Linked DNA regions of Homo sapiens. The protein of the gene in region 2 purifies or fractionates together with the protein of the main gene of each other region. This does not show direct contact. Each region holds a gene or a part of one and is shown on either strand. Other genes may lie near its edges. The genes, in order: TPP2 and ZNF75A.

Evidence for each region.
Region 1: the proteins of ZNF75A (region 2) and TPP2 purify together in Homo sapiens (affinity purification with mass spectrometry; one large-scale study listed by BioGRID and IntAct). This does not show direct contact.

What each region holds. Positions count from the first base shown.
Region 1 is NC_000013.11:102,641,706-102,645,524, reverse strand, and holds part of TPP2 (tripeptidyl-peptidase 2), read right to left. Parts: intron 2,304-3,819; coding exon 2,149-2,303; intron 969-2,148; coding exon 852-968; intron 617-851; coding exon 516-616; intron 1-515. UniProt on the Homo sapiens protein: Cytosolic tripeptidyl-peptidase that releases N-terminal tripeptides from polypeptides and is a component of the proteolytic cascade acting downstream of the 26S proteasome in the ubiquitin-proteasome pathway.
Region 2 is NC_000016.10:3,308,244-3,312,062, forward strand, and holds part of ZNF75A (zinc finger protein 75A), read left to right. Parts: intron 1-69; 5' UTR 70-185; coding exon 186-593; exon of another isoform or gene 594-2,703; intron 2,704-3,405; exon of another isoform or gene 3,406-3,509; coding exon 3,510-3,705; intron 3,706-3,819. UniProt on the Homo sapiens protein: May be involved in transcriptional regulation.

The DNA.
Region 1 (3,819 bases), on a different chromosome or scaffold from region 2:
TCATGCCGATGAGTTAAGGTCAGATTAAACAAAAGAAACCAGGTATCTTTATAACACAGTGAGTATGTGAACACAGGTCAAGGTGCCCTGCTTTTGTAAGGGGAGCTGCTGAGGCACAAACAGCAGGCTACAGTACTTAAGTTTCTACCATTTAATAAACAGTTTCTAATGGTATTGCAGTTTCTAAAAATGACTGCATTAGGATTCACAAAATAATATCAGAGAGAATGTTAACTTGCTATTTTACAGCAAGAAATAAAAAGGTTAATGTCCACTGATCCTAACTAGTCATGACTGGGATCGGCTATCCACCATCCTTGACTTTGCTGGTCAGGTGGGACAGTGAAGCTAGAAGCTGATACTGGGGCTGCCTTGCAGAGATCTGCTGGCAAGGATAAAATTCTCACCTCTAGCATGCAGGTGGATTAAAAAAAAAAAAGGCCCTTTTTTAAGAGTGTAAGAGATCCCCCCAATCTATATTCAATATCTGTAGTTCCTAAAACATTGAATGATACCGCAGTGTTTGGACCCAGTTCTTCAAAGTTATGCAGGGAGCCAGATCTTCGTATTTCAAGGAGGACTGAACATCAAAGCGGTTGATTCCTTCCGATGCATGCTACAAAGGATTTCTCAAATTACTTTCTCAAACTTTACTAAAAATAAGCAATATTTTGTACCTAAAATAAATGTGTCCAATATAAAGTTTATAAGTACCCACACACAAAGCCTACTGCTATCTTCAGAACCACAGGTAATTTCCCCTCATTAAAGTTTAAATCTAACCAATGAAGTTACTCTCCAGTAACACAAGTAACTGACATTAAAAATCATGAAAATGTTGTGGAACTTACAATGTTTAACTGAGGAGCAGTACACACTATCCCATGGAAAGAAATGGTATAATCAATGTTGACATCACTGAGACTTGCCCACCAACGAGCAATGCAAAATTCAATTGCTTTTCCACCCTGCAAATAAAAGTAAATAAAATATATCTCTTTTCTTATTTTTCTCAAATTACAGAATATAAATACTAGCTGTTTCAGAGCAATTCTGTTTTCAAACTTTTCCTGTTTGTAGCAAGAAAACTCAAAAATTTTAACAGCTATGCTAAGTAAGAGTTAGACAAATCATTTGCAGAGATATGGTGTATTTAAATATACATAGTTATTTACTCATAACCCTATGCTTCTTGTCATAAAAGATCCTAGGCAGCTTCTGAAAGCACATATAATAAAGCAAATGTGATTTTATTATTTCGAAGTGAAATAAAAAATTAGGACCAAAAGAAAAATAATCAAGTATAACGACACAATAAAGATACTTCAACTTTGTAAGGCATACTCAATAGGCACAATTGAGTTTGGGCTCACAGCTACCTGGCAACCAAAACAAAATGACATTATGGTCATTTACATCTTTCTCCCTATTAAAAAATAAAGATAAGGAAAAGGAAAAAAAAACACCTGCTCTTAGCACTGAGTTTTAAAGTAAGTTTTCTAGTAATCAGTGATTTAAAAGTTTAAAAAGATGAAGCAACACTGATCCATGGAAGAACACAAATGAAAGTAACCAGAAACCAAGAGATACTGGGAAAATCCCAGAACCAACTGAAAACACAAAGGAGCGCATTGAAGGAAGAACATCAGTACTTTCACCTTCTATGGAAGAAAGACTAGTCATCATTTCCAACACCACAGATAAGAATGCAGTCTGCCATCATCTGAGATAACTTAGACATGAAGCAGTAGCAGTTTTCCTATAATGCAAATTAGCCTCATAGCTTAACAACACAGCATTAGTAAAATAAGTTAAGTGACAAGCAAACAGGTCTTAAAGAAATTAATCTATAGTACAACAAAGAATAATCTAAATCAGGGTCCTAACTACAAGGCACGAGAATCTACCAGACTAGTATGTTTCTTTGACTATGCTATTCAAGAATTACAGCCATAATTACCTCCAACTTGATTTCAAGTACCCTGATTAGATTTTCTATTTTTCTACTTCATTTTTTTGGCATTAAAAAAATATATAATCCCAACATGCTAAATACAAACTATAAAATCAAATGCAAATACTTAGTCTTAGCCCATACCAAAAAGGCAAATAAATTGTGTTAGGATTATAAACTATAATTAAACTTACTAGGACAGGAAAAGCTTCAGTCAGTGTTCCTTTCTCTGGAAGAGAACAAAACTTATAGAATTCATGGCTTCGATATGCTCTTTGCTTCACAAGCTGGACTGCATGTAGAACAAACTTTGCTGACACCTCAGAAGAACACGAACACACTGTCACTTCTAAAATAAGAAAGAAAGAAGCAAAGCTTTAAACTTATAAGACCTAAAATTGACATAAAGTGGCTTTAATAATGCCCACTTAGGGATAATTCCCATGTAGGGACATAATAGGGATCAAAAATAAAATGTACACTCAAATCTGCATATTTCCATAAAAACAAAGAATCAACAAAATATTAATAAAGGTAGAAGACTAGAAGATTTTCTATGGGAACGAAAGAAACTGGTATTAAAATGAACCACCACCATGAGGCTGCAAACACCTGGAAACAGCAAGCTGTCCATAGATGCATACACAATTACATTAATCGGGTACCTTTTAAAATCCCTCCTTGTTTTAGCTGAAAACCAGTCAATTCCAGATAAAGTAAGGAAGGTTATATTTTTGGAAACCTCTATTTGTTATCATGCCTCAATTCCTCATTGATAACTTTTCCTAATCTCTCTTCTTGGTCTACTTGTGTACTGTGTGCGTCTACAAAGCCTGGCACGACTACTTATGCTTAACTTTACTCTGAGCCAGCGCTGGAGGTAAGCCAAGATCACCGCAATGCCAGATTGGCAGCTTTTCTAAAGAACACCCAAGCTAATTCAAGGGAACTGAAGCAAGGCGCAATGCCGTGGCTCATAAAACCAGGTGTGCAGAGAGCTCTCAGAACCTAGTCAGTTGCTAAGAATACAAAATCTAGTGTTATGACAATATTTCTAATTATTTGAAATAAAACTAAGACTGTTAAATTCTCTTAACTACTTGCATTCTAGATCATTTGATAATTTTTATTTAAAAAAACAAATTATTTTCAATACCAACCTAAACCAATCATAAATCAGTGCCATTTATCACTAAACAAGTACCCAATTCAGTATTAATTAACCATAGATTTGTATTCTTTAATTTACCAGTGCACATTTTACCAGAGCCTGGAGCTCTACAAGTCCCAGGGGCCCTATGAGAATGGGACCCCAGGAATGCTGAACACAGCAACTCTGACTCCACCCTCTAGAAGTACTGTCAAGTGTGAGCGTAATCCCAACGAAGACAAGCTATGTACCAAGTACTATAAAATCCCTAATCCTTACAACAGACTAACGACTATATTTACAGTTGAAACAGAAGTCCAGAAAATTTAGAAACCTGCCCCCAGGTAACCATTAGCGTATGGCAGAGTGTGGATCCAAACCCAGACTTCTCAATTTCCAAAGCCCGTGGCCTTGCCGCTACTCTGTGCTGCCTCCCTCTAATCCAGTTCTCTTAACTGCAATATCTTGGACTAGATGCTCTCAAGGCCTCTGGAAGCAGGGTCCTTGTCTAAGTAGCTCACCACCTTAGCCCACTGAAAAGGGCCTGGCACAGATGGTACAGAAAAATATGCTTAATGAATGAGTGTAGTACAACCCGATTATCCTCAGAAGCCTCTCACTGCTGCAATAGCTCCATTATAAACCAGTGTGCAAATTAACAGGCTATATTGGGTGCTGTTCAATTCACTGCTTTAGCTCTCAGCTTTTGCTATTA
Region 2 (3,819 bases):
ATAAGTCGCAAGTGATGAGGTTCATGTGAGTTTCTTATTGATACATACTTTTCTTTTTCTTGTCCTCAGTGCTTTTAGGAAGAAGATCCTTTTATTGCTTTTGTACAAGACCAGACAGGATCTCATTTGTTAAACGTGGTACCAATTGGGTGTCTTAACACAGGAGCAGAACTTCCTAGAGCAGAATGATGATGGTAGATCTGAAAGTGGCTGCGTACTTGGACCCTCAGATCAGGGCTTTGTGGGAGACCAAGGGGCCTGCAAGAGAGAGCTCCGGTCAGAGTAAAAAATCTCCTCAAATGGACTGTCTCGATCCTAAGAGCTCTTGCTGGCACTTCCGGAATTTCACCTATGATGAAGCAGGTGGACCCCGTGAGGCTGTCAGCAAACTTCAAGAATTATGTCATCTATGGCTGAAGCCAGAGATCCACTCAAAAGAGCAGATACTGGAACTGCTGGTGCTGGAGCAGTTCCTGACTATTCTGCCCAGGGAGACACAGACCCAGATGCAGAAGCACCATCCACAGAGCATTGAGGAGGCTGTGGCTCTGGTAGAACACTTGCAGAGGGAATCTGGTCAAACATGGAATGGGGTGAGAAGAAAGATTCCTGACATGTACAGTGAAATAGGATGCAGGTGGATATAGTAGAGATGGTGGCAGTTAGTTGAGAAATTAGATGGATTAGGTAGGTCATTGTTTGGTTTTTTTTTTAAGGACAGTTAAGGTGGGACTTGAAACTACAGGCCCACAGAAAAGTTCACAGGTTTCAGAGATTGTGGTAGATACTTCCCTGGCCTTAGAGAAAGAGAGTTGCTTTTGCCCTCTTTGGAGCCAGGGTGAATTGAGGGTGTTGGGCCTAGTCTGGCTTGGCCAAGGAGACAGGACTTAAGTACTTAGAAACAGAATAAAAGGTAATAAAGAGTCAGGGAGGCTGGATGCAGTGGCTCACACCTGTAATCTCAGCACTTTAGGAGGCTGAGGCGGGTAGATCACCTGAGGTCAGGAGTTCAAGACCAGCCTGGACAGCATGGTGGAACCCTCTCTCTACAAAAATAAACAAATTAGCTGGGCATGATGACCGGTGCCTGTAATCCCGGCTATCCTCGAGGCTGAGGAGGGAGAATCATTTGAACCTGGGAGGTTGCAGTGAGCCGAGATCGCACCATTGCACTCCAGCCTGGGCAACACAGCAAGACTCCATCTCACAAAAAAAAAAAAAACAAAAAAAACAAAAAAAAAACGGGCCGGGTGCAGTGACTCACACCTGTAATTCCAGCACTTTGAGAGGCCAAGGCAGACAGATCCCCTGAGCCCAGCCTGGGCAACATGGTGAAACCCCGTCTCTACAAAAAACATGAAAATTAGCCAGGCATGGTGGCACACACCTGTGGTCCCAGTTACTTGGGAGGCTGAGTCAGGAGAATCACCTGAGCCCAGGAGGTGGAGGTTGCAGTGAGCTGAGATGGCACCATTGCACTCCCTTGGGTGACAGAGTGAGAACCTGTCAAAAAAAAAAAAAAAAGGCAGATCCACAAGGAGAACACAGGAAAACAAGGACACTTAAAGAAAAGGAGAAATTGGCCAGGTTCGGTGGCTCATGCCTATATTTCGAACACTTTAGGGGGTCGCGGTGGGAGGACTGCTTGAGACCAGCCTGGGGAACATAGTGTGACCTTGTTGCTATGAAAAAAAAAAAGAAAATAAGCCAGGCTGATGGCACATGCCTCTAGTCCCAGCTTCACAAGAGGTTGAGGTGAGAGAATTGCTTGACCCAGAAGTTTGAGGCTACAGTGAGTTATTATTGCAGCATTGTACTCTGGCCTGGGCAACAGAGTGAGACCTTGTCTCTTAAAAAAAAAAATGTTTTAGGCCAGGCGTGGTGGCTCACATCTGTGATCTCAGCACTTTGGGAGGCTGAGGCGGGCGGATCACAAGGTCAGGAGTTCAAAACCAGCCTGACCAACATGCTGAAACCCTGTCTCTACTAAAAATACATAAACTAGCTGAGCATGGTGGCGTGTGCCCGTAATCCCAGCTACTCAGAAGGCTGAGGCAGGAGAATGGCTTGAACTCGGGAGGCAGAGGCTGCAGTGAGCTGAGATTGCACCACTGCACTCCAGCCAGGGCAACTGAGCGAGACTCCATGTGAAAAAAAAAATGTTTTTAAAAATTAGGAAAAATCCAGCCTGGGCAACATGGTGAAGCTCAGTCTCTACAAAAAATACAAAAATCAGCTGGGCATGGTGGCGTGTGCCTGTAGTCCCAGCCACTCGGGAGGCTGAGGTGGGAGGATCACCTGAGCCTGGGGAGGATGAGACTGCAGTGAGCCATGATTGTACCACTGTACCCCAGCCTGGGTGACAGAGTGAGACCCCCGTCTCAAAACAAAACAAACAAACAAAAAAAACAACTAGGGGAAGACTGCACAAGAAAAGAAAACATAGAAAAAAGGGAAACAAAGATTTGGAAAAAAGAAAAATCCCAACAGAATAGCCAAGGACAGGAAATGCACTGATGGGTAATGTCCTCCCTATAGTAGATGAAAGTCTCTACTGCCTTCCCTTAATGCTTGTTCCTTGGCTCTGCTGACAAGTTGGGAGCCAGGGTATGAACTTGGTGGGTGGCGACACATCTGCTGACCTCGGGTCTGCTGGGAAGAATACAGGGCAGGACCTATGTTTGGTGTCAGAATCATCTGGAGGTAGGTTGGAGCCACTCCCCTTTTTTCTCCATTCTATCCCCATTCTCTGAAAACCTTCGCTGGCTATAGGGATAATCAGGCTGACAGGAAAACTTTTAAATTCATTTATTTGAATTTTAGAGAAAACTAGAAGACAGAAAACCACAACTGTGGGATTGAAGTCAACAGAAAAGGCCTGACAAGACAGTATTAGAATGAGTGGCCTGCCTGGCTGGGCACAATGGCTCACACCTATAATCCCAGCACTTTGGGAGGCTGAGGTGGGCAGATTACCTGAGTTTGGGAGTTTGAGACCAGCTTGACCAACATGAAGAAACCCCGTCTCTACTAAAAATGCAAAAATTAGCCAGGCGTGGTGGTGCATACCTGTAATCCCAGCTACTTGGAAGGCTGAGGCAGGAGAATCACTTGAACCCAGGAGGCAGAGGTAGCAGTGAGCCGAGATTATGCCTTTGCACCCCAGCCTGGGCAACAAGAGCAAAACTCATCTCAAAAAAAAAAAAAAAAATGAGTGGGCTGCCCAACCCTGCCAGTGGCCTGACCTAGACCGTATACAGAGGAGTAGAAGCTGCTGTGTTAAAGGGCTGGCAGGCACCACAGTTTGTTTCCTTTCACCCTAGTTTTCTCATATTTGTGTATAGTCATTTGTGGAGCATTGGTGGCCCAGTATCTCTTTAAGCCTTTTTTTGTCATTTTTTTTAGTGTCTTATACTACCCACAATGTGGGCTGTACACCTGTCGCTCTGCCTCCACCCCCACAAACCAAAAGTAAGTTCTGTGGTAACAAGGATGGGAATTATTTCTAGGTTGCAGTCCATGAGCTGGGAAAGGAGGCAGTGCTCTTGGGAGAAACAGCAGAGGCCTCAAGTTTCGGGCTGAAGCCAACAGAGTCCCAACCAGTGGGCGTATCCCAAGATGAAGAATTTTGGAATACATACGAGGGTCTGCAAGAACAGCTCAGCAGGAATACTCATAAAGAGACTGAGCCTGTGTATGAGAGGGGTAAGGAGCTTCATGATAATTTTCTTCTCCTGGGAGCTGTGATAATAGTTTATTCACCCAAAATGTCATGGGCATTTTTTGAATACCCTGCTCTGTGGATTTGTAAAACCAGCC